4 separate regions of the Homo sapiens genome follow, and regions 1, 2 and 4 are each reported to be linked to region 3. The links are microRNA targets in miRTarBase. Many come from high-throughput screens and were not tested one by one. Region 3 holds a microRNA gene; each other region holds the end of a gene's coding sequence.
The links. The annotated mature microRNA hsa-miR-5194 reads UGAGGGGUUUGGAAUGGGAUGG and lies in region 3 at 1,617-1,638, shown strand. An mRNA with a match to its seed (bases 2 to 7 or 8) in the 3' UTR can be bound and repressed. Matches are read on the target gene's strand: a 7mer-m8 pairs with bases 2 to 8, a 7mer-A1 pairs with bases 2 to 7 and ends in A, and an 8mer does both.

Region 1 (5,834 bases), not on the chromosome of region 3:
CGATCTCCCAGACGCAAGTGATCCTCCTGCCTCAGCTTCCCAAGTAGCTGGAACTATAGGAGTGTGCCACCATGCCCGGCTAATTTATTTTTTTGTAGATATGGGGCCTCACTGTGTTACTCAGGCTGGTCTTGAACTCCTGACCTCAGGTGATCCGTCCGCCTCGGCCTCCCAAAGTGCTGGGATTATAGGCATAAGCCACTGCACCTGGCGTTGAGCCTCTTATTAGCGGCTTTCTGCTTGGTGTCTTAGCCTCTGATGCCCTGCCTCGCTCAAAGCTCAGGAGTTGGCCAATTTCACAAGCGCACTGAGTGTGCACCGCCCACCTTGCCCTCCTGCACTTATTTCCCTTTGCTTTGACATCACAGCCCCTTGAATCCGAGCTGCCTTGGTAACCCTGAGCTCCCATTTTGCTTTCCCCACCCAAGGAAGCTGCTGAAAGGTCGAGGTGGCCGTTTTCTGCCCTCCCCATGGGGAAAAGGTAGAGGCCAGAAAGGGCTCCCTCCAGAAAGGGCATTTCCCTCCTTTCCAGGAGCTTGATCCCCAAAATCCTGGCCGCTCTGGTTGGTCACCAGTGCTTCCAACAACTGGTTTATTCTTTTCTTTGGATTTTATTCGGTTTACATAGTTCATGGCAGGTGTGTTAGTCGGATATAAACATTGCTGGGAGTGGACAGCAGCACTAGTGTTGTTGTTGTTTTTAAGAGACAGGGTCTCCCTGTGTTTCCCAGGCTTGATTCACACTCTCGGGCTTAAGCGATCCTCCTGCCTCAGCCTCCTGAGTAGCTGGAGTTACAGGCATACAATTCCACACCCAGCTAGCACCTAGTTCTTTAACTTGCTTTTTTGGTTAACTTGCTTAATGATTTAGCTTGGAGATCTTTCCTCATCTGTTCATAAAGAGCCTCTTCATTCTTTCTCACGTCCGCATGGTCTTTGATGGGAGAGCCATCACTGGTTTAATTAGATGGTTTCCAGTGTGTCGCTACCACGGACAATCTAATTATACATGTAAGTTTGTTGATGTGTTCATGTATCTGGAGGTTAAACTCCTGTAGTGCCAAATCTTTTATGTGGATAAACACTTGTCATTTGGAGAGCTGTCACCTGATTGCCCTCGGTGGCGTTGTGCCGGTCCCCTCCTCACGGCGTGTCTGGGAAGAGCAAGCTCGTTTTAGCTGCACAGCCTAGAAGCCGTGGGCAGACCTGGGGGAAGGGGCAGGGCTCTCCCCTCCCATGCTGGCCCTGGCGTCAGATGCCACGTCACACCTGTGGTCTCTCCCAGGACACATTTGACATCCGGATCCTGATGGCCAAGTCTGTCAAGTACACGGTGAACTTCTTAGAAGCCAAAGAAGGAGATTTGCACAGGTACTGGCACCCACACTCCATCCTCCCAGGCCTGGCTCAGGCCGAAGGTCAGGGCCACCCCTGGCTCCCGCCGGCATCCTGCCGTCCCAGGGCAGATGGTGGGCGGGGGCCCCAGGCCTCTGCACCTGGCACCCCCTCTTCTCTCTCGGCAGCGCCTGTCTGGCTTCCCCAGCAGCCACTGCCCTTTGCCTTCCAGGATAGAAATCCCATTCAAATTCCACATGCTGCATTCAGGGCTGGTCCACGGCCTGGCTTTCTGGTTTGACGTTGCTTTCATCGGCTCCATGTGAGTGCCGCAGAGCAGCCCATGCTGCCTCCTCCCCACTCCCAGGGCTTCCTGCAGCTGCAACCTGGCTGGGGGGGTGGAACATGGCTCCAGGTTCCACCATCCCTTCCAATGGGAGTGAGAGCCTGTCTCGGAGCAAGAGACTGTTGTGGGTGGGGTGTGTGTGTGTGTGTGTGTATGTGTGTGTGTGTCCTGTGTTCCCAGTGTCTGTCCCTCATGGGTCTGTGTCTGTCTCTTGGCACATGTCAGGGTGAGTAGGGATCTCGTGGTTGCGGGCCCCTCGTGTGTACATGTATGCCTGCTCATGTTTGTGTCTGGGACTGCCTGGGGGCCAGCCTGTCTCTGCTCCAGGGTCCCAGGGGTCCCTGGCAGAGGGGGCAGGTGCTTGGGGAGGACTCAAGGCATACAAGGTGGTGGCTCCAGTGGTGGCGCCGGCCCAGTCAAGTATGTGCCTGTCCCTGCTCCACAGAATGACCGTGTGGCTGTCCACAGCCCCGACAGAGCCCCTGACCCACTGGTACCAGGTGCGGTGCCTGTTCCAGTCACCACTGTTCGCCAAGGCAGGGGACACGCTCTCAGGGACATGTCTGCTTATTGCCAACAAAAGGTGCGACTGCTCCCTGGGGCTGGTGGTGGTGGGCAGGGGTCCATCTGCCCAGCAGCTCATGCCACGGCCTGCACCCTGTCCGCAGACAGAGCTACGACATCAGTATTGTGGCCCAGGTGGACCAGACCGGCTCCAAGTCCAGTAACCTCCTGGATCTGAAAAACCCCTTCTTTAGGTAGGAGGGGCCCCTTGCCTGCACAGGGGGGCGCCCCGGCCCTGCAACCCCCTTGCCCCTGCCCATGGCTCTGTCTCTGCCATAGATACACGGGCACAACGCCCTCACCCCCACCCGGCTCCCACTACACATCTCCCTCGGAAAACATGTGGAACACGGGCAGCACCTACAACCTCAGCAGCGGGATGGCCGTGGCAGGTGAGCAGGGCCCACCCCAATGCCCAGCCAACCCGGGAGGCCGCCCTCGCCGCAGGCCTGGCCCCTCTGCCTCCAGCCCTGACGTCTCCCTCTCTGGACACAGGGATGCCGACCGCCTATGACTTGAGCAGTGTTATTGCCAGTGGCTCCAGCGTGGGCCACAACAACCTGATTCCTTTAGGTGAGTGTCCCCCAGGGCCAGGGGCAGCAGGGAGCCATGCCCAGGACTGCCCAGGGGCCGGGAAGGGCCTGTGGTGACCAGGGTCGGCCTCTGCTTGGTCCTTTCACCTTTTCCTCTTCCTGGGGGCTCTCGGCCGAGGCTCTCCGTCCTCTCTGCCTCGCTCTGCAGCCTGCTGCTGTGCATGGGCTGGGTGGCTGGGGGCGGTGACGCCGTCTCCCTTCCTTCTTTCCTCCCTCTCGCTGCGCAGCCAACACGGGGATTGTCAATCACACCCACTCCCGGATGGGCTCCATAATGAGCACGGGGATTGTCCAAGGTAACGAGGGTGGCGGGGGCAGGGCCCGTGGGGGCCGAGCTAGCGTGTGAGTCGCCATCCTCTGTCCGGCCGCCCGCCTGCCCTCTTGCCTGCCCTTTCTCTCTCTCTGTGACTCTGCCTGGGGGCTGGGCGGGCCAGGGCAGCCCCTCACTGCCATTGCCTGCTCCACAGGGTCCTCCGGCGCCCAGGGCAGTGGTGGTGGCAGCACGAGTGCCCACTATGCAGTCAACAGCCAGTTCACCATGGGCGGCCCCGCCATCTCCATGGCGTCGCCCATGTCCATCCCGACCAACACCATGCACTACGGGAGCTAGGGGCCCGCCCCGCGGACTGACAGCACCAGGAAACCAAATGATGTCCCTGCCCGCCGCCCCCGCCGGGCGGCTTTCCCCCTTGTACTGGAGAAGCTCGAACACCCGGTCACAGCTCTCTTTGCTATGGGAACTGGGACACTTTTTTACACGATGTTGCCGCCGTCCCCACCCTAACCCCCACCTCCCGGCCCTGAGCGTGTGTCGCTGCCATATTTTACACAAAATCATGTTGTGGGAGCCCTCGTCCCCCCTCCTGCCCGCTCTACCCTGACCTGGGCTTGTCATCTGCTGGAACAGGCGCCATGGGGCCTGCCAGCCCTGCCTGCCAGGTCCCTTAGCACCTGTCCCCCTGCCTGTCTCCAGTGGGAAGGTAGCCTGGCCAGGCGGGGCCTCCCCTTCGACGACCAGGCCTCGGTCACAACGGACGTGACATGCTGCTTTTTTTAATTTTATTTTTTTATGAAAAGAACCAGTGTCAATCCGCAGACCCTCTGTGAAGCCAGGCCGGCCGGGCCGAGCCAGCAGCCCCTCTCCCTAGACTCAGAGGCGCCGCGGGGAGGGGTGGCCCCGCCGAGGCTTCAGGGGCCCCCTCCCCACCAAAGGGTTCACCTCACACTTGAATGTACAACCCACCCCACTGTCGGGAAGGCCTCCGTCCTCGGCCCCTGCCTCTTGCTGCTGTCCTGTCCCCGAGCCCCTGCAGGTCCCCCCCCGCCCCCCCACTCAAGAGTTAGAGCAGGTGGCTGCAGGCCTTGGGCCCGGAGGGAAGGCCACTGCCGGCCACTTGGGGCAGACACAGACACCTCAAGGATCTGTCACGGAAGGCGTCCTTTTTCCTTGTAGCTAACGTTAGGCCTGAGTAGCTCCCCTCCATCCTTGTAGACGCTCCAGTCCCTACTACTGTGACGGCATTTCCATCCCTCCCCTGCCCGGGAAGGGACCTTGCAGGGACCTCTCCCTCCAAAAAAAGAAAAAAAGAAAAAGAAAGAAAAAATAAATGAGGAAACGTGTTGCAGCACAGGCAGTTTTCTTCTCCTTCTGCTCCCCTGTTTCTCATACCCCCAAACTCAGATGCTGGAGCTCAGGCCCGCCGTGTGTGCACCCAGGCAGGAGCGGGCGCTGTCCAGGCTGGGCCGCCCCCTTGGCTCTCCCTCCTGTTCCAGGGGAGCCATAGGAGGGAAAGCAGGTGGCCCGGGGGGGATATGGGGGCCCCAGCCCTGTCCCAAAGCTCCCTGCTCGGCTGCCCCTCGCCCGCCTTTATATAAATTCTCTGAATCACCTTTGCATAGAAAATAAAAGTGTTTGCTTTGTAAGAAAAGTCTGGAAAGTAGCAGAATCATCTCAAGGTGTCAAAGGAGCCTTCAGTCATCGTCTGGGGGGCAGGACAGGCAGAGGGGTTGGTCCACTTAGGTGTTGCCTGAAAGAAAGAATTGTCTGGGAGTGGCCCCAGAACCTCTCGCCTTGACTGGGAGTGGGAGGGCAGCCCCCTTAGCCCAGCTGGGAATAGTCCTTACCTGTGGGACCCGGGCCTTCCTAGGAGGGGGCCAGGGACTGCGGCAAGGTAGGGGACAGCGCGATGTTTGAGGGCAGAGATGTGATTTGGGGTGGAGGAGCCACGTTCTCCGGAGGCAGCGACTGGAAGAAGTACAACTGCACAAGACCCCTGGGGTCAGAGGCAGGGCCAGCCCATGCCCCCCTAGCCCCTCGGCCCCACCTGTGGCCACCCCAGACCCGTACCTTACAGCCCATGGCCAGGAGGGCGTGGAGCAGCACGACCACGGACAGCAGCACTGTGGCCACCAGCCTGGTGTCCTCACGGACCACGGGCCAGAGGGTGAATACCAGCCCGGCGGCTGACAGGCCCAGGGCCAGCGCCCCAAAGAGCCACTGCAGCCAAGGCACAGGGATGAGCCACAGGACCTGGGAGCAACACGGCGGCAGGTGACCATGCCAGTCCCCCCAGCCACCACCCACTCTGCACCAGGCCACCCTCACCACCATGGGAATGAGGCGGCAGGTGACCATGCCAGTGTCCCCACACAGCCACCACCCACTCCGCGCCAGGCCACACTCACCACCATGGGGATGAAGACAAAGAGGGAGTAGCCGTAGATGCACACAGTCTCCAGGAAGGTGTAGGGCCCCATGCGCTCCTGGACACCCTTGCGCCACCGCAGGAAGCCCCACAGGGCCAGGGGCACCAGCCACGCATAGCAGTAGATGCTGATGCCTGCCACGGTCACTGGGGGGGGCAAGGTGAGCAGTCACCCCCTGTACCCCAGGGCCCTGCCAGGCATTGGGCCTGCCCGTCTGCTTACCCTTGTGGAACTGGGGGCTGTAGTGGATGGAGGGGTCCCTCCTCTGGGCCAGCACCAGCGTCAGGTTG
Region 2 (5,834 bases), not on the chromosome of region 3:
CGTTTGTTACTTGATCTTGAACTGTCATGAGTGCAGTGATTCTGGGAGAGGGGGTTTTTTGGCTCCTCTCCCAGTTTTTGGGGAATAGGATGGCAGAGAGAAGGCAAGATCTGCCGACATTCTAAAAAGGACATAGGGATGGGCTACGGGCAGGCTGAGGACTGGCTTTCTGTGAGTCTCAAGGGTTGCTGGGCTTTGGTGGGTGGGTGACTCATGGAGGGGCATTCCCTGCAGACAGTAGGCAGGTTGCTGCCCTCTGTCTCCAAAGAGGTCTTTAAGAGAAGGAAGCGCAACTGGGGCCCCTGTGATGACTGGAAGATTGTGGCTCCAGGACACAGTCACTACCTTCAGGGATGGAAGTGAAGTGATGCTGAGGGGGGAGAAGAGATTCAGTAACATGCCAGCCCTCAGCCACGCAGAACAGCTGGAAGGCTGCCTCGGGGACTCTTAGAACATGCTGGAACAGTGGCACAGCCTTCAGAATTCCGGGAAAGCCTGTAAAACCCAATCAGGACCCATGGCATACACCATGGTGCTCTGTGTAGCAGGTGCTGCTTTGCTGTGGCTGTTTGTGCATATGTGTGTACATACCTAAAGCATAGAGGTGTCAAATGCATTTTGTATTGTTACCACTTTACGGGTTTGAAAGCTGCTGCATCTAGAAAAGATGTTTGTGGCCGGGCTCGGTGGTTCACGCCTGTAATCCCAGCACTTTGGAAGGCCGAGGTGGGCAGATCACTTGAGCTCAGGAGTTCGAGACCAGCCTGGGCAACATGGCGAAACCTCATCTCTACAAAAAATACAAAAAAATGTAGCCAGGTGTGGTGGCAGGCACCTGTAGTCCCAGCTACTTGGGAGGCTGAGATGGGACAATTACCTGAGCCCAGGGAAGTTGAGGCTATAGTGAGCTGTAATCATGCACTCCAGCCTGGGTGACAGAGGGAGACCCCGTCTAAAAAAAAGAAAAGAAAGAAAAGATGGGTGGACCCCCACCAAGGGTCATCTCACTCAAAGGGCAGGAGGCTGAGACCCAATTCAGGGGACTACTGGAGGTCATCAGCCCTGCTTGGTTTCAGGGTAACCGTGGGCTTTGGTGTCAGGCAGAGCTGGATTCAAACTTACTGGTTTGTCTACAACCTACCAGTTGTATGACTCTGGGTAAGATGCCCAACATCTCTGAGTTTTGTCACTTGCCTGAGTAGGTAGTGCCGGTAGCTACCTCACCGATGGTTGTGAGGGTTAGGCAGGACACCTCCTGGAATGCCAAGCTGAGAACTGGTTTTTTTTGTTTTGTTTTTGTTTTTTGAGACAGGTTCTCGCTCTGTCATCCAGGCTGGAGCGCAGTGGTGCGATCTTGGCTCACTGCAACCTCCACCTCCTGGGTTCAAGCGATTCTCATGCCTCAGCCACCCGAGTAGCTGGGATTACTGGTGTACACCACCCCACCTGGCTAATCCCAGGGGCCCTGTTCTGTCCTCCCCCTCATGCTCTGCCAGCTGAAGGCCAGTGGCTGCCAGGGATTCCCCACCTGCCACCCCACCCATCCCAGCACCTTCCAGATCCTCCAGGGTGAAGCAGAGAAATAATGAGACATCAGCCTATAGGAAGGAGATCCAGGAGAGGAAAAAGAAACAAGTTTTATTAAAGCCCCAAACACTTGGCTAGAAAAACTGAAAAGGAAAGAGAGCAGGGAGCGGGGGAGAAGAAAAAAGGACATTAAAAAAGAGAGACAGAGAAAACACAGCAACCCTTTTCCATTTAGAAATTGTCAAGTTACACCGACAGAGGTCACAGAATATCCACAGAAGCCATCACTGCTACACCAACATGGGCCCTACAGGGTGGATGGGGCAGGGTGTGGAGCCGGGGCTCACCCCGGGGGGCCCCCTGGGGACCCCACTCAGAGCCTCAGGCCTGAGGCTCCTGGGGAAACAGCATATTGTGGAAGGGGCAGGAAATCCCCCATGCGAGTAACACAGCACAGTGGGCGGGGGCTGAGAGGACCAGGTACAGGGGTCCCCCGAGACGTCTTAGTTTTCTCTTGGTCAAGCACACACTGATGGACAGAGCAGCGAGGCGCATGCAGCTGGGGGCACTGATGTGCTGCAGGCTGTGAGAGGGCCAGCGGGGACGGGGGCTCAGGAAGGGATCTGGAGCCAGTGGTGCAGGGATGATGGAACACACGCACACAGAGGCACACCCACACACTTGGGTCTGCACCAGCACACATACCTGCACACACACACTCGGAGACACAGATTACATGCACCTCCATGTATGCGTCTCTATCCACATGTACGTGGCCCACACACAAGTCTCTGGCTCTCGGCATGTCTGCACACACATTACACATGTTCTCACACACAAAGCTCCTCTCACGCTAACATGCAGGTAGGCACGTGCCAATGCCCAAACAGGTTACATGCACCTATGTGCCCACGCCTTCCCCCACACATGTGCTCGGCCATGCCTGTGGGTGCAGGCCCCATGCGTCTGCACACACAGTGCATGGGCTTGTGCCAGCACACACACAGGCTGCACGCAATTCCACACGGATGCCTCCCAGCCCATAAATGTGCAGGAACCAAAGAGAAAGAAAGATGCAAATCCCACTGGGCTTCACCCGAGCGGGTGGGGCGGGGCACGTGGCTCCCTCCTTCTGCCCCTTCGTGGATGGACACTGCCCCCCCCACCTCCCCCACAAAGGGACATTCAACTCAGGACAATGACGGTGGGGCACACATTCCAGTCACAGGGCTGAGGGTGGGAGCTGGGGGCAAGCGAAGTAGCAAGCAGAGAGTAATGGAGTGGAGGGAGGAGGGGGCACCACTCCCCCCTCCCCTCCCAAGTCAGGGGGTCTCTGTACAGCCAAATCAAACCAGACCATTTCACTGGGACCACAGAAGCCAGGCCGACGTGCCCGCCCCCCAGCCCCCCTCCCCCGCCAAAACAGTGGCCAGGGAGAGTGCCGTGGTTTTCTTTTTTTTTTCTTTTTTAAATATTTATATATATTTATATTACGTATATTATATATATAATATGTAAATATATTTTTAAAACAATATAAAATGTTAAGACACTTCACTTAAATGTAAAGAGTTGCCTGCAATTAAAAGTAATTGCATCATTTATGAGGTCCTTTTTTTTTTTTCTATTTTCCAGGGTTTTTTTTTTTTTCCAGGAGGGATTTTTTTTTTCCTCTTTTGTTATTTTTCAAAAAGGCTTGCTCGCCTTGGTACAAAAATGATCCAAAGCTAGAAAACAAGGATGAACCAACAAAGGCAAAAACAAAAAAAGAAATGAAGAAACACAACCCGTTTCCCCTCCCCCCAAACCTTCAACAGCTCCCAGCTCTCCCCAGGTGCGGACCTTCCCCAGCCAGGCCCCAGGGTCTGGGGGGCTCTGCCTTCTGCGCAGCTCCTCCTTTCTGTGCTTGCTATGGGGGACTGATTCTAGTCCCCCTCCCCTGTGCTTACTTCACTTTGTGCTCCAAGTGGGAATCCTGCGGCCGGGGACCCCGCTCCTCCTCCTCCTCTTCTCCTATCCTCTCCCTACCGGCTCCTCACTGTGCCCTCTGGGGGGCCAGGAGTGAGAACCAAAATTGGCCTCTCTCTGCCTCCCCAGGACCCGGCCAAAAGCCAGGCGGCACTGCCAACCGCCTCTGCAGGGCAGGCAGGGCGTCCACAGGCCAGGGGCGCTGGCTGGATGGTCAGGCCTCAGGGACCTTCAGACATCTCACCAGGGTCACCAGAGCCCCATTGAAAAACTACGTCTCATCCTTTCCTGGGAAAACCCTCAAATTGCCAAGAGGATGACTGAAGTTCAAGTCACCCCACCTGCGGGTCCCAGGTGTCTTCAGTGCTCCCCGTCAAGCCCCTCTCGACCCTCCCATTTCCCTCAAACCAGACCCTTCCCCCAACTGCAAGCCACAAAACCTGGTTTTCTAGGCCCCTCACTCTTGCCCACCCCATCCCCATTCAATAAGTTAATGCCATTTAAAGTGCTAAATCAGGAAACTAAAAGTACCAAATACCCGTCCGGGCCGCCCTCTCCCAAGGCAGTGTCCCCGATATCCGGCTGTCCGTGCAACCCACCCTCCACAGCCAGCAGACCAAAGGGCCTCTGCCCTCCACTCCCCACTGGACGGCAAGGCCCAGGAGGCCAGCGCCTCCCCAGGGATACAGACTCCATGGCCTCACACCCACCCTGAGGCCTCTCAAACTCCGGCCTCGTCTCCAGCCTGTCCGTCTCTACTCCAGGCCCACTTGGGTGTGAGTGGGAGGAGGCAGAGCAGCCACAGAGGAAGTCACAGTCTTGTCGGAGCTTAGACAGGGAGTGGGGCATCTCCAAGGCCAGTCTCCCTAAGCCCCGCTCTCTGGCTTGATGTATGGGTTGGTCCGATGTCCCCGCGTTCCTCCAGGAAGGTATCGAGAAACGGGAGAGGGGTCTCCCACTGCTCCAAGTCTCCGTGGTTCAGAGTTTGTTTGGAGTATTCTTGGGAAGTGAGGGGAAGGCGGGAAGGGGGTGCAGGAGCTTCAGGATGGACTGGGGGAAAGAGTGGTGAAAGAGAAGAAGGAGAGATGTGACAGGTGCGGCCAGCGAGAGGCCAGCTGGGATCAAGGAAGGTGGTGTGTTTGGTTTTTAGTTTTACTGTTTAAAAAAAGATAATTAAAAGTTAATTGTTAAAAAAAAAAAAAAAAACAAAACCAAAAACACCAACAGATGATGGGTAGGGGTCGCTGAGGAGGGCCGCACCCTCCTCTTCAGGGCACACCCCTCAGGGCGTCTGGAGAGTAGGGTGGGGTGGGGTGGAGATGAAGGAAGAGAGGGGAGAAATGGCAGGAGTGAGGGAGGGGGACAGGCGGGGCAGCGGGGTGAGGGGCTTCTAGAAGGAGATGGAAGAATTCCTTGCCCCAAAGGAAGTCAATACAGGGATAGAGGTTCTGGAAGCCGAGGGCTTTTCTGAGACTGGGCTCGAGGTCTCATTCGACCCGCTCATCTCTTTAGATGGTTTAGTGGCCTGGAACAAAAACAGGGGTCAGGGGTCAGAGAGCGGAAGGGAGCGCCTCCATGCTGGCCCCCAGCTGAAGTTTTAAAAGTGGAAAACCTCCACAAATCCAAGGAAATTAACTGCAAAAGGAAGAAGCCAGAGGGGCATCTGGAGAGAGGGGTCCCTTGAATGGTGGAGGGGTGGGGGCAGAAAAGGGGGGGGAGGGGGCACGAGGTTGGACAAAGGGCCTGGGTGGTCAGAGGGCAGGCCCATAGTTACTGAGAGCAGAGAGAGAAGCAGAGCGACCAGAGAAGCACAGAAGAGGCCGCGCCCAGGATGGGCAGATGGGGAGGTGGGGGTGGGGGAGGGCAGGGGAGGGGAGGAAGAAGTGAAACATTAGCTGGGACAGGGGCACAAGCCCTGCGGGGGACGGGGGTCAGGGTGGGGAAAGGCTCCTAGTCCCAAATGGCCCGCTGTACAGCCAGAGCCCCTTCCAGCTTCATCCTGGTGGCAACAGAGGAGGGGGCTTATCCTCCCAGGGGGGAATAAACACTTCAAAGACCCCGTCCACCACCACCACCACCACCACCTGGAAATCTGAGAAGAAGGCGCTGCCGCACCAGCCTCCCGCCCAGTGCAGGAGGCCCCACTGCATGCCCTGCAAGCACTTGTCGCCCCAGTTGGTAACAGGAGGCTACTCCCTCATGACTTGTCCTGCCCTCACTGGTCAGTTCTAGTGGTCAGAACTGACCCCTCATCCTCCTCCCACCTTCGGTGGACTCCCGCAACTCCACCGGTCCTGGAGGCTTTTCCTCTGCAGCTGCGGTCTCCAAAGTGCGGTTTG
Region 3 (5,834 bases):
TCCATTCTTTCCTCATCTGCCTAATAGAGTCTCCTGTCACTGGCTCTGTCTGGCCGCTTTAAGCTCTTTGGAATTTACATCCAGTGCTCACTCAACAAAGCCTATTGCATGGCAGGGCTGATGGAGCCCTGGGCCTGCTTCTCAGCGCTGCATGACCTTGGGCAAATCACATCCCACTGCAGAACCAGAATTGTCATTGATGAAGCTGGGCTACTATCACCTGCTTCCCTGGAATGTTTGGAGGATTGAGTGGGATAATGTGTATCAAAGCATCTAGCATAGTCTAGCAGAAAGCCTCCATATACACGTCCTTCTCCCATGGGGCATAGTCACAGGTGGGTGAGAGCTGTATGATTTGTCCAGGGCTATCCTTCTGGCAGAGATGGGATCTGAATTTAATGCAGGGGGACAGTTTTTCATGATGCTTTTGGGCCGGGCGCAGTGGCTCACACCTGTAATCCCAGCACTTTGGAAGGCCGAGGCGGGTGGATCACCTGAGGTCAGGAGTTCAAGACCAGCCTGGCCAACATGGTGAAACCCTGTTTCTACTAAAAATACAAAAATTAGCTGGGCGTGTTGGCTGGCACCTGTAATCCCAGCTACTCGGGAGGCTGAGGCAGGAGAATTGCTTGAACCTGGGAGGCAGAGGTTGCAATGAGCCAAAATTGTGCCATTGCACTCCAGCCTGGGTGACAAGAGGGAAACTCTGTCTCAAAAAAAAAAAAAAAGATGCTTTTGAACTCCTCAGATGGCTTTATGAAAAATGAAACACTTTGCCATGTTAGTGGTTGGCGCCTTTGAAAAAGGACAGTGGCAGGTTGAGAAGCAAGGACCTTGGAGCCAAGGAGATCTTTGATTCAGACCCGACTCCCTGACTGTGAAGTCTTTTGCACATTGCATAACCTCTCTTGGCATCTCAGTGTCTGTTTTCCAGCTTGTTGTGGCTCTTAGGTCAGAAGATGTCTGAATATGCCTGACATAGGGTCTAGCATCAGTGAGTGCTCAGTAATTTGAGTCCCTGGTCTACAGAGCCTCAGTGCTGGGACTCAGGGAGAGGAACATGTAGACTAAGGGAAGTTTCTTCACCAGCCCCAGCTTTGCTCAAAACCAGAGTTGAAGTAGAATGCAGAAGACGACGTGGAAGTGAAACTTGGGCAATAACTTCCTAAAATGTCTGCTTTGCTCCCCTGAACTCTGGTTTTGTGTCTTGCCCTCTGCTTCTGGGACACGAGAGACCAACCAGTGTGTAGACAGATCAAACAGGCTTGCAAATGAAAGAATCAAATGGAGATTTCTGTGTTTTCTGAAAAGTGGTATTTTACAGTCATTCCTAAACATGCCTTCATAACTCTCAAGTTTTCAGGTCTTGAGGGAGGAGTGAGATTCATCCTGCCATTCAACAACAGAACAGTCACTGAGTGTGCACCTCCTGTGTGCTAGGCCCCGTGATGGATCCACATGGGGAATGATAGTGTGTGCCCCACAGTCACCCCACACATGTCCCTGAGGCCTGAACAGCTTGGAGAATGAAGGAGTTTGGGTTTATTTCTTTGGGTTAACTTAAACTCAGCCCTTCTAGGCCCATTCTTTTCACTCAGGAATTGGATAAGCTTTTCTGAGGGGTTTGGAATGGGATGGCAGGGAGAGTCACCAGACACCATGAATGACAGGCCAGCAGGTTGATGGTGGCGAGTGGAGCAGGAGCTAGGGAGTGAGGTCACATTTCTGGACTATGTGTGCAGGCAGCTATGGACCTGGCAGAAAGCCCCTCTATTTATTTATTTATTTAGAGACAGAGTCTCGCTCTGTCACCCAGGCTGGAGTGCAGTGGCACGATCTCGGCTCACTGCAACCTCCACCTCCCGGGTTCAAGCAATTCTCCTGCCTCAGCCTCCCGAGTAGCTGGGACTACAGGCGCCCGCAACCATACCTGGCTAATTTTTGTACTTTTAGTAGAGATGGAGTTTCACCATGTTGGACAGGCCAGTCTTGAACACCTGACCTCAGATGATCTGGCCGCCTCGGCCTCCTAAAGTGCTGGGATTACAGGCGTGAGCCACCATGCCTGGCCTGGAAGCCCCTCTTAACAGGGCTCCCATCAGGATCACGTCGTGGGTTTCTGTGATTTTTTTGGTCTCCTTTATGGCAATATTAACTTTCTTTTATGGAGCATGGAGCAAGTGTCCTGTACTTTGTTGTTGTTGCTGTTTTTGGAGATGGAGTTTCGCTCTTGTTGCCCAGGCTGGAGTGCAATGGTGCAATCTCGGCTCAGCGCAACCTCCGTCTCCCAGGTTCAAGCAATTCTCCTGCCTTAGCCTCCAAAGTAGCTGGGATTATAGGCCTGTGCCACCACGCCCAGCTAATGTTGTATTTTTAGTAGCGACAGGGTTTCACCATGTTGGGCAGGCTGGTCTCGAACTCCTGACCTCAGGCGATCCACCTGCCTCGGCCTCCCAAAGTGCTGGGATTACAGGCGTGAGCCACTGCGCCCAGCCATGTCATATACTTTGAATATTTTATTTCTTACTTTCATGGTAACTCTGTGAGGCAGGTAATATTATTCCCGTTTTACAGATGAGGAAACTGAGAAAACCTGGAGGCTGATAAAAAGCAGAGCTGGAATTCAAACATACCAGGCCAGCTTCAGTGCCCACCTCCTGTTTTTACTACCTCCTTTGGGTGAACCTCAAACGTAACTGGAAAAGTCTATGAATGGAGTTGTGTAGCCGAGAGCAGACACTGCTCCTGCTGGACCCTGCTGGGAGAGGGCGGTGGTTTTCTCAGTGGGCATCTCATAACGGCGGGCATCTCAGCAGCCCTCAGGGCCAAGAACCACCTACTGCAAACTCGTCAGCCAAGGAAGCTCAGAATTTATAATTGTGGTTGTAAGTAGATTACTTGAGCTAATGTGAGCAGTGAGGTTTTTGGTAAAGTTAGTGTGAAACTGACTCATACTAATAATCTACCTCTTGATGCATTTGGTGTTGCGATTTGTAGCACTTTGCATTGTCTGCATACATGCATCCCCACTAGAAAAGATTTGGGGGAAAGAAGGGTCCTGAGACCATACACTCTGGGGGATTGAATTTGAAAGGAAAATTTCAATGTTTGGATGCTGGTCCATGTAGACTTGAGCAAATAAGGTGCACATAGGATTTATACCTCTGCTTTCAAGTCCCCCCACCCATTTTCTATATGTGACCTTGCCAGCATACTCTATGCATGTGTTCCCCCTTCTGCAGGATTTCTTTAATCTGCTCATACCTTGGGTGTGCTTACACTTCCTGGGTGGGAGGTTCCAGATATATGTGTGTATATATATACATATATATATACATATATATATGTATATATATACACATATATATGTATATATATACACATATATATGTATATATATATAATTTGTGTTTTTAGTAGAGACGGGGTTTTACCATGTTGGCCAGGCTGATCTCGAACTCCTGACCTCAGGTGATCCACCTGCCTCGGCCTCCCAAATAAATAAATATATATATATTTTATTTTATTTTATTTTATTTTATTTTTTGAGATGAGAGTCTTGCTACGTTGCTCAAGCTGGACTCACTCTCCTGGGTTCAAGTGATCCTCCCACTTCAGCCCCCCAAGTAGATGGGACTATAGGTGCACACCACTGTACCCGGCAAGCCAGATTCTTTTTCTTCTTTTTTTCTTTTGAGACAGAGTGTCACTTTGTCACCCAAGCTGGAGTACAGCGGCGTGATCTCGGCTCACTGCAACCTCCGCTTCCTGGGTTCAAGCGATTCTCATACCTCAGCCTCCTGAGTAGCTGGAATCACAGGTGTGGACCACCATGCCCGGCTAATTTTTGTATTTTTAATAGAGACAGTATTTTACCATGTTGGCCAGGTGAGTCTCAAGCTCCTGACCTCAAGTGATCTGCCTGCCTTGGCCTCCCAAAGTGCTGGGATTACAGGCATGAGCTACCGCGCCCAGCCTGGAGTCATATTTTTAATGAGCATTCTAAGTGATTCTGATGCAGAGGTCCCTGTCACTGGGTTAGAGAAATATCTGTTAAGGGTAATCTGCCCGTTGTCATCTATTCTGAGGGTGTTGGGCGTGGGGTGGCTGGTGTGAGATGGAAAGGACAGTGGAGATCACCTAGTCCCATCTTTTCCAGCCTTTACATTTTTTTTTTTTTTTTTAAGAGATGAGGTCTCACTGTGTTACCCAGGTTGATCTTGAACTCTTGAGCTCAAGTGATCCTCCTGCCTCAGCCTCTCAAAGTGCTGGAATTATAGGTTCCCAGCTTTTAATTTTTAAGGCACAGATGGAGCTGTGAAAGAGGAAGCATCTCCCAGCTAGAGGTGACCCACCCGGGGACCCCATCACCCTAGATGCTGAGGAGGTCAGTATCTCACACAATGTAACCTCTTGTTAGAATCTCGCTTTTGGGGCTCTGATTCCAGTCGAAGGTGGAAGACTGTTCAGAGGCAATGGAAGCCCAGAGAGGTGATGTGTGTTGTCCAGTGTCACACAGGAGTGTGACAATCATCTAGGCCACTCTTCATTTAAAGAAGGAGGGACCAGGCCAGGCACGTGAAAGCCCGCTAAGGGACCCAGCAGTGAGGAGGGCGAGTTCTTTTGACCAGATAGCCTGTCCCTGGGAGGCGGGTTGTGAAGCCACAAGGCCCTGCCCTAGCACCCACCAGCCTGGGTCCTGGTTTCCTGTTCTGATCCGAGCTGGGCTGATTTTCCGCTGGTTCCTAACAGACAGACACGTGCCCCCAAGACCTAAAAGCACCAAAGGAGAAGAAACTCTGCTCAACAGAGTCACATCTTCATGGTGAAGTTCAGAAGTCAGCACAATAGGCAAAAAAATAAAAAATAAAAAATTCTGTGAAGTTCAGAAGTCAGCACAGTAGGCAAAAAATAAAAAATAAAAAATTCCTGGCCAGCCACGGTGGCTCATGCCTGTAATCCCAGCACTTTGGGAGGCTGAGGCAGATGGATAACGAGGTCAGGAATTTGAGAACAGCCTGACCAACATGGTGAAGCCTTGTCTCTACACTAAAAATACAAAAATTAGCCAGGTGTGGTGGCACGTGCCTGTAATCCCAGCTACTCGGGAGGCTGAGGCAGGAGAAACACTTGAACCGGGGAGGCAGAGCTTGCAGTGAGCCGAGATTGTGCCACTGCACTCCAGCCTGGGCAACAAAGCGAGACTCCATCTCAAAAAAAAAAAAAAAAAAAAAAATTCCTGACAATCTCCCGAGTTGTTCCTGAAGGTTGGTTTTCCATGCGCTGGTTGTGTGTGTGACGCTGTACAGGAACATCAGTGAGTCAATGCATAAAAGAAACTGCAGTAGACAATATACGATAAAGTACAATGCACAATATACAAAAAATAGAAAAAAGAGTACTATAGCTCTTTTAGAATTTGTCCAGCAGGCTTTCTAGTTTTCCCACACTAAGAAACAAAAAAACCTGTAGAAACAAATACAAATAAATACAATAGGCAAAATACACTTTTATATTATTTAAAGTTTTTAAAATGGAAAAAGAAAAGCATTTGGCCCTTTGAGTATAGCTGAATTCGGCTCAGTGAAACGAGGGTATGGCTGGGTGGCACACGCCTGCCGTCCCAGCTACTCAGGAGGCTCAGGTGGGAGGATTGATTGAGCCCAGGAGTTTGAGACCAACCTGGGCAACATAGGGAGACCCCTGTCTCTAAACAAAAAATAAAAAAGAAAATGAGGGTACAGAGGAATCCCATTGTATGTTTGATGCACTGAGGGCATCTTCGGAATGTGCTAAGTTGTCTTGATACCCAGTGGGGGTGTTACCTGTGTATG
Region 4 (5,834 bases), not on the chromosome of region 3:
CCAGAGGGGGCTCCCCGAAGGAGGCAGGGGAAGCTCTGGGGACGTCTGGCTCCAGCAGGTGCAGGCCGTGTCTCCGGGTTCCAGCCACCTTTGCCACAACTCCCAAGGTGGAGCTACACCTCTGGACACGGCCAGGCCCAGATGTGAGGTGGGAGGTGCTGGTTCCTGGGTCCCCCAGTCCCTTCCTGAGCTCTCCAGACTATCGAGAGCTCCAGGCCCAGTTGTGAGGTGGGAAGGGCTGGTTCCTGGGTCCCCCAGTCCCTTCCTGAGCTCACCAGACTATCGAGAGCTCCAGGTCCAGATGTGAGGTGGAAGGTGCTGGTTCCTGGGTCCCCCAGTCCCTTCCTGAGCTCTCCAGACTATCGAGAGCTCCAGGTCCAGATGTGAGGTGGAAGGTGCTGGTTCCTGGGTCCCCCAGTCCCTTTCTGAGCTCGCCAGACTATGGAGAACTCCAGGTCCAGATGTGAGGTGGGAAGGGCTGGTTCCTGGGTCCCGAATCCCTTCCTGAGCTCACCAGACTATCAAGAGCTCCAGGTCCAGATGTGAGGTGAGAAAGGCTGGTTCCTGGGTCCCCCAGTCCCTTTCTGAGCTCGCCAGACTATCGAGAACTCCAGGTCCAGATGTGAGGTGGGAAGGGCTGGTTCCTGGGTCCCGAATCCCTTCCTGAGCTCACCAGACTATCGAGAGCTCCAGGTCCAGATGTGAGGTGGGAAGGGCTGGTTCCTGGGTCCCCCAGTCCCTTCCTGAGCTCTCCAGACTATCGAGAGCTCCAGGTCCAGATGTGATGTGGGAAGGGCTGGTTCCTGGGTCCCGAATCCCTTCCTGAGCTCACCAGACTATCGAGAGCTCCAGGTCCAGATGTGAGGTGGAAGGTGCTGGTTCCTGGGTCCCCCAGTCCCTTCCTGAGCTCTCCAGACTATCGAGAGCTCCAGGCCCAGTTGTGAGGTGGGAAGGGCTGGTTCTTGGGTCCCGAATCCCTTCCTGAGCTCTTCAGACTATCGAGAGCTCCAGGTCCAGATGTGAGGTGGGAAGGGCTGGTTCCTGGGTCCCGAATCCCTTCCTGAGCTCTCCAGACTATCGAGAGCTCCAGGTCCAGATGTGAGGTGGGAAGGGCTGGTTCCCGGGTCCCCCAGTCCCTTTCTGAGCTCGCCAGACTATCGAGAACTCCAGGTCCAGATGTGAGGTGGGAAGTGCTTGTTCCTGGGGTCCTGAATCCCTTCCTGAGCTCACCAGACTGTTGAGAGCTGAGTGCACAGAGCCGCCGTGGAAGGGACCTGTGCTGTCTGGTTATTTAAACTCCTGTATGGATTTTTGTTGAAACAGGGTCACTAATGTGAAAGTGGAGTCCTTCGCCTGTCCAAGGTGGGTTGAGTGAATGTCCTGCTGTGGCCGTGAGGGGGGACGTGTGTTTCTTTTAGATCAGGGAACTAGAGGCCTTGTAACCTCAGAATGGCCGGAGAGATGCCGCCAGCTGGGGATGTCCAAAGAGTCTCCTACTCGCCCCTGAAGACCTGCAATGGGGAAGGAGGGGCAGATGGCCTGTGTGCGGATGGGAAGGGGGTTCCCAGTGACACTGGACTAGACGTACTAGTTAGGCCTCCCTTCCACCGATGGGGTCTGGTTCCCGCAGGCAGAAGGGGAGTCGCCCAAGCCCGCTTCTGACCCAGGAGGGAGGAGTTCCTGAGGGCTCCCTTGCTCCCCTGCCCTCAGGCAGCTGTTCCCTCCTTGTGTCTTTGGCGGAGGCCCTGGGCTGAGGTGTGTTCTCCCTCCCTGTCGGGAGTCAGCACTGTGAGGGACCACCCCAGGAGGCCTCTTCCCCTGCCTGCTTTGAGGGGGCACGTGGTTTGAGCAGAGTGGCCGTGGGTCCAGCTCGCCCCCATCAAGGCCTGGATTTCTGCTGGGGAAGTCACCAGAGACCCATCTGAGCTCCCAGCCCTCTCCCCACATGGGGCTTCAGGGGTCAGAGTCACAGCTGGAGCCAAGAGGAGGGGTACAACCGAACCCACTCTGTGTTCAACCTGATTTATGAAAAAGCAGAAGACAAATGGGCATATGGACCTTCACCCCCGGCTCCCATCACGCACTCTGGACGCCACTGCCCACCAAAGCCGTGGCTATGCGCAGCTTCTCGGGCCACGCAAGGTGGGGCACCCTTACATCAGGTGCCCTCCTGCTCCTGAGTGTATCCAGTGAGCTGTAGCCATGGGCAGGCGTGTTCCCCACCCCTTGCTCCCGACGTCCGCGTCGTCCCCTCCTTCCTGTACGGAATGTTCGCTCATCGCCGCCTCCTCCTTGTCTCCTCAGGGAATCCCCTCTTCTGTCCTGGAAAAGGCTCCTGTACCAGCAGTTTGGGAGTGCCGTCCACGACCCTGACAGTCCCAGCCCTGCTGCCCCATGGCCACGTGCCCACAGATGTGCTGTTGGTCCAGGTGTCCCAGTCTGGCCACAGCCCTGCCTCCGCCCTCACCTACATGCCCTCCCAGCCCCTCCCATCTCTGGACGAGGCCTCCTTCCTCAGGTTCCTCCTGCTCCTGACCTCCCAGTGTGATGTCCGGGTCCTTTATCATCCTATTCATCCTGGAGAGGAAAAGTGTCGGGCAAAGGGGGATCTGGGGGGAGCTCAGCAGTGACTGGGGAGCTGGTCTGCCTCAGAGACAGAGTAGGGGGTGGGAGCAGAGCCTCGGTGAGGGTCTTGGCCACAGGGCAGTGCCTTCCTGAACGTGGCAGGCTTTACTACCAGGAACGCACTCGGTGGTGGAGGCCCCATGTTCCCAGGAGCCAAGATTCGTAGCATCCTTGAGGCCATCCTGATAAAATTCGGCGCTATTGCCCCCGTAGCTCTGGAGCTCTAAACCGTCTATCTGCTTCTGTGCTGAACGCCTTTCCCATCTGCTGACGTAGGCCCAGGGCTGCCCTGCCCCTGCTGCCAGTGTACCGTGAGCGGGGCTCCAGCCAGTTCAAGCTCAGAGCCAGAGCTGGACGGGCCAGAACTGCGCTGCACACTTCCTGGACTGAGGCGGGGACTTTGGGTCCCACCCGGTTTCTCCTGATTATGGCTGCTGTGGGGTGAGGGGAGGGAGGGGCAGCCCCGAGGCAGTCTCTTCCCTTTGAGAAGATATTTTCCCACAAAGGGGTGGGAAGCCAGGAGTGAGAAGGAATTCAGGGAGAGCAAAGGAGCCAGTGCTGAGATGCTGCTGTGTTGGTTGAGGAAAACCTCGGGCCTGAGGGCCAGGCCGGAGCCCAGGTCTCTGCTGACAATGGGGGTTCAAGGAAGACGTCGTTATCTCCCCTCCCCACTTACTCGAGGAGAGAGGTGAGGGGGGGATGACTTGCGGGTTCTGATCAGGCCCCTGGGTGGGGAAGGGGCACAGTGTCCCTCAGCAGCTTACGCCCCTGGAGTCTTGGGGGGCCCAGCCTGGCCCTGGGGCCTTTTCCAGCTACTGTGCCCTTGGGCAGCTGCGTCTGGGGCTCAACCCCCCAATCCTGTTCCCCTCTCCAGCTGCGGGTCTGTAGGCAGCTGTCACATCTGAAGGGTTTCTGCAACCTGGACCCCATCTGGGTGTGGGTCAGACCCTGTGACCCACATGCCACCCCCACCCTCCACAGAGCCCCCTTGCTGGGACAGCCAGCTCACCTCCAAGGACATCCCCTCCTGGCTTCTCCCCCTTCCGAGTCTGCAGCGCCGTGGGCTTCTCTGCCGATGGGCCCGGGTTGGGGTTAAGGTGGGCATCCTCCAGGTACAACGAGCCTGAAGAGCCCCTTTCAGTGCAGACGGGGCTGCAGAGTGACACTGGCTGGGCACCTGCCCCACGACCAATGACAAGGATTTCCAGCTGAATGCTTTATTCCCATAGGGATCTGGACCTGTGCCCAAGATATAAATACTACACTTTTTTTTTTTTTTTTTAACTGACATTGTGAAATTCTCCCTATAGCTTTTGCCATTCAAGCAACATTGTGATCTTTCTTCCCCGCCACGTGTGTGGGAATGATTGAGTCCTGTTTGCAAGCTGGAGAGGAGCTCTCCCTTTGCTAGTACTTTCTCTAAAGTACTAGTCTAGTAAAATTTATTCTTGTTAGAAGGTCAACAAAATATCTGTTTAGCTTTTATGAAGAGTCACCGTAGCAGCCCCCACGGCTGGAAAGAGGCCTGTACGTTCTGGACGCGTTTTGTTGGCTGGGCTTCTGGAGGCACTGGCAAGGTCAAACTGCATTTCTTTAAGAACAGTTGCAGGATCTGGCTCGCCTCTGTGGGAAGCCGGCATTACAGGTGCTTGGTGGATGGGCCGTGTCACATTGCCATCTGGGGTCCTTTGGGGTTTCCAGGTTGTCACCATGCTGTCCCATTTGGGAATCCCATACCTGCCTGTCCCCACTGCGCTGGCTGACCCTTGCTGCCTGCTGCCTCTTGGGAGGGCTTTGTCCCTGCCTCTGAGCTGGTGGGCAGGATGGCTGGGTGGCCCCCAGAGAAGCACAGACCTGAGATGGGGTCTCCATGCCCGGTTTGCTGTTGGAATGATCTGAACAGGACCCCAAATGCCTCTTCCCTCTGGTCATGCCTCACTATCTCTAGGAGCTCCATCCTGTGGCTTCCAGAGTGTGCACTTCCAGCCCACCCGGGCAGTGCTGAGAGGGAGGAGGAGAACAAGGATGGCCCAGCCTCCCCTCCCTCCCCTAGACCACGGGGCGGGCAGCTCGGGTTCCTGGAGGGCTGTTTCCCCCACGCTGTCCCTACATCTGCTCTGATCTAAAATGTCTTTCCTTTTATGCTGCGCCCAGTCTTGGGGCTCAAAGATTTGCCCAAACCTCATTGGCCCTCGTGACTAGGCTCATCTAGATGGTGCTCACGCTGGTGTTTGAGGCATTTCCACTGTGATCTCCACGAGGGGATGTTTTCCGGGACACATCTCTGGCTCTGGGAACTGCCTGACTCACTGAAGAAACTACTTTTCAGGCACTGTAGGGTCACCCATATGCCTCCAGCTCAGTTGACGCTTAAAAACAGGTGCAGAAAAGCTCGCGATGGAAGGTCTTAATGAGAGTGTCTGTCTATGCCAATCATGTAAAATGACGTTTCTTGAAAAAGATTCAGTGGTTCAGCTTTGTCAGCATCATCTCAACACAAGCCTGCTGGCTCTTTTTAGCATCTCATCCAACCATGTCATCGTCCAGATGAGAAATCTTAGCCCAGGTGAGGGGAGTAACTTGCTTGAGGTCACACAGCTGGCTGTTGGCAAAGCTGGGATTAGAACCCTCAACCCAGGGTCCCTTCCTCTGCAGCGCCTACATGGTTGGTTGAATAAGTGGCTGCGTTTCCTGGGGCCCTGGGTTTTGGGGAAGCCAGTTAGCTGCTGCTTTGGCACTGGCATGGAGGTGAGCAGTCAAGGATGCTGGTGAGGCTGCAGTTTCTGCTCTTTTTCATCAGGGGGGATAGTCTCTAGGATTTTTCAGTGAGGACCCTTGGGCTTTGGATGCAGCTTGAACCAAGAAAACGAGGAGGGAAAGGGATTCAGTGAACTATTCCTCAGTGGGATCGGTTCTTCAGCTCCTGATGGGGGCTGTGTAATGGGGGCAGAGGCCAGGGAAAAAGATGCTGTTCACCCACCCTCAGCTTCCCTTTTCCTAAATTAAGAGGAAAAGTGGTCAAAGAAAAACTCTTCATTTCTCCCTGATTCTTAAACGAAGGTGGTTAATAGAAACTCAGGCTCCCGTGACAAGGCAGGACAAGAGCCTGTTTCGCTTTCCTCCCTGACCCTGCCAGGTGCCAACTCAAACACTACCTTTCTCATTGGTTTCTAAGTCAGTAGAGACAGATCTGTTTTAAGCAGTTGGGG

Region 1: miRTarBase lists YIPF2 as a target of hsa-miR-5194. Seed matches in the 3' UTR shown: 7mer-m8 at 4,840-4,846 and 7mer-m8 at 4,005-4,011.
Region 2: miRTarBase lists SRCIN1 as a target of hsa-miR-5194. Seed matches in the 3' UTR shown: 7mer-A1 at 4,876-4,882, 7mer-A1 at 4,504-4,510 and 7mer-m8 at 4,441-4,447.
Region 4: miRTarBase lists RAP1GAP2 as a target of hsa-miR-5194. The part of its 3' UTR that is shown has no 7-base or 8-base seed match.

The regions. Positions count from the first base shown.
Region 1 is chr19:10,918,310-10,924,143 of GRCh38, forward strand. YIPF2 (Yip1 domain family member 2) reads right to left here. Exons shown (of 10, transcript NM_001321439.2): 6 at 5,767-5,834; 7 at 5,524-5,690; 8 at 5,186-5,368; 9 at 4,963-5,098; 10 at 3,884-4,865. The coding sequence ends at 4,982. CARM1 (coactivator associated arginine methyltransferase 1) reads left to right here. Exons shown (of 16, transcript NM_199141.2): 9 at 1,286-1,371; 10 at 1,568-1,657; 11 at 2,127-2,264; 12 at 2,350-2,439; 13 at 2,525-2,637; 14 at 2,741-2,818; 15 at 3,066-3,134; 16 at 3,306-4,766. The coding sequence ends at 3,448. Among named protein-coding and RNA genes, the nearest start is that of YIPF2, 7.4 kb to the right of the region's middle. RefSeq lists a silencer at 2,723-2,902.
Region 2 is chr17:38,528,412-38,534,245 of GRCh38, forward strand. SRCIN1 (SRC kinase signaling inhibitor 1) reads right to left here. Exons shown (of 19, transcript NM_025248.3): 19 at 1,620-5,020. The coding sequence ends at 4,886. Among named protein-coding and RNA genes, the nearest start is that of SRCIN1, 75 kb to the right of the region's middle.
Region 3 is chr8:130,004,164-130,009,997 of GRCh38, reverse strand. It overlaps MIR5194 (microRNA 5194), which reads left to right and starts at 1,545; the gene lies at 1,545-1,664. The region is part of intron 1 of CYRIB (CYFIP related Rac1 interactor B); the gene reads left to right. The region is part of intron 1 of LOC124902025 (a long non-coding RNA gene); the gene reads left to right. It also overlaps the pseudogene RNU7-181P.
Region 4 is chr17:3,031,088-3,036,921 of GRCh38, forward strand. RAP1GAP2 (RAP1 GTPase activating protein 2) reads left to right here. Exons shown (of 25, transcript NM_015085.5): 24 at 1,324-1,362; 25 at 2,305-5,834. The coding sequence ends at 1,332. Among named protein-coding and RNA genes, the nearest start is that of OR1D5, 30 kb to the right of the region's middle.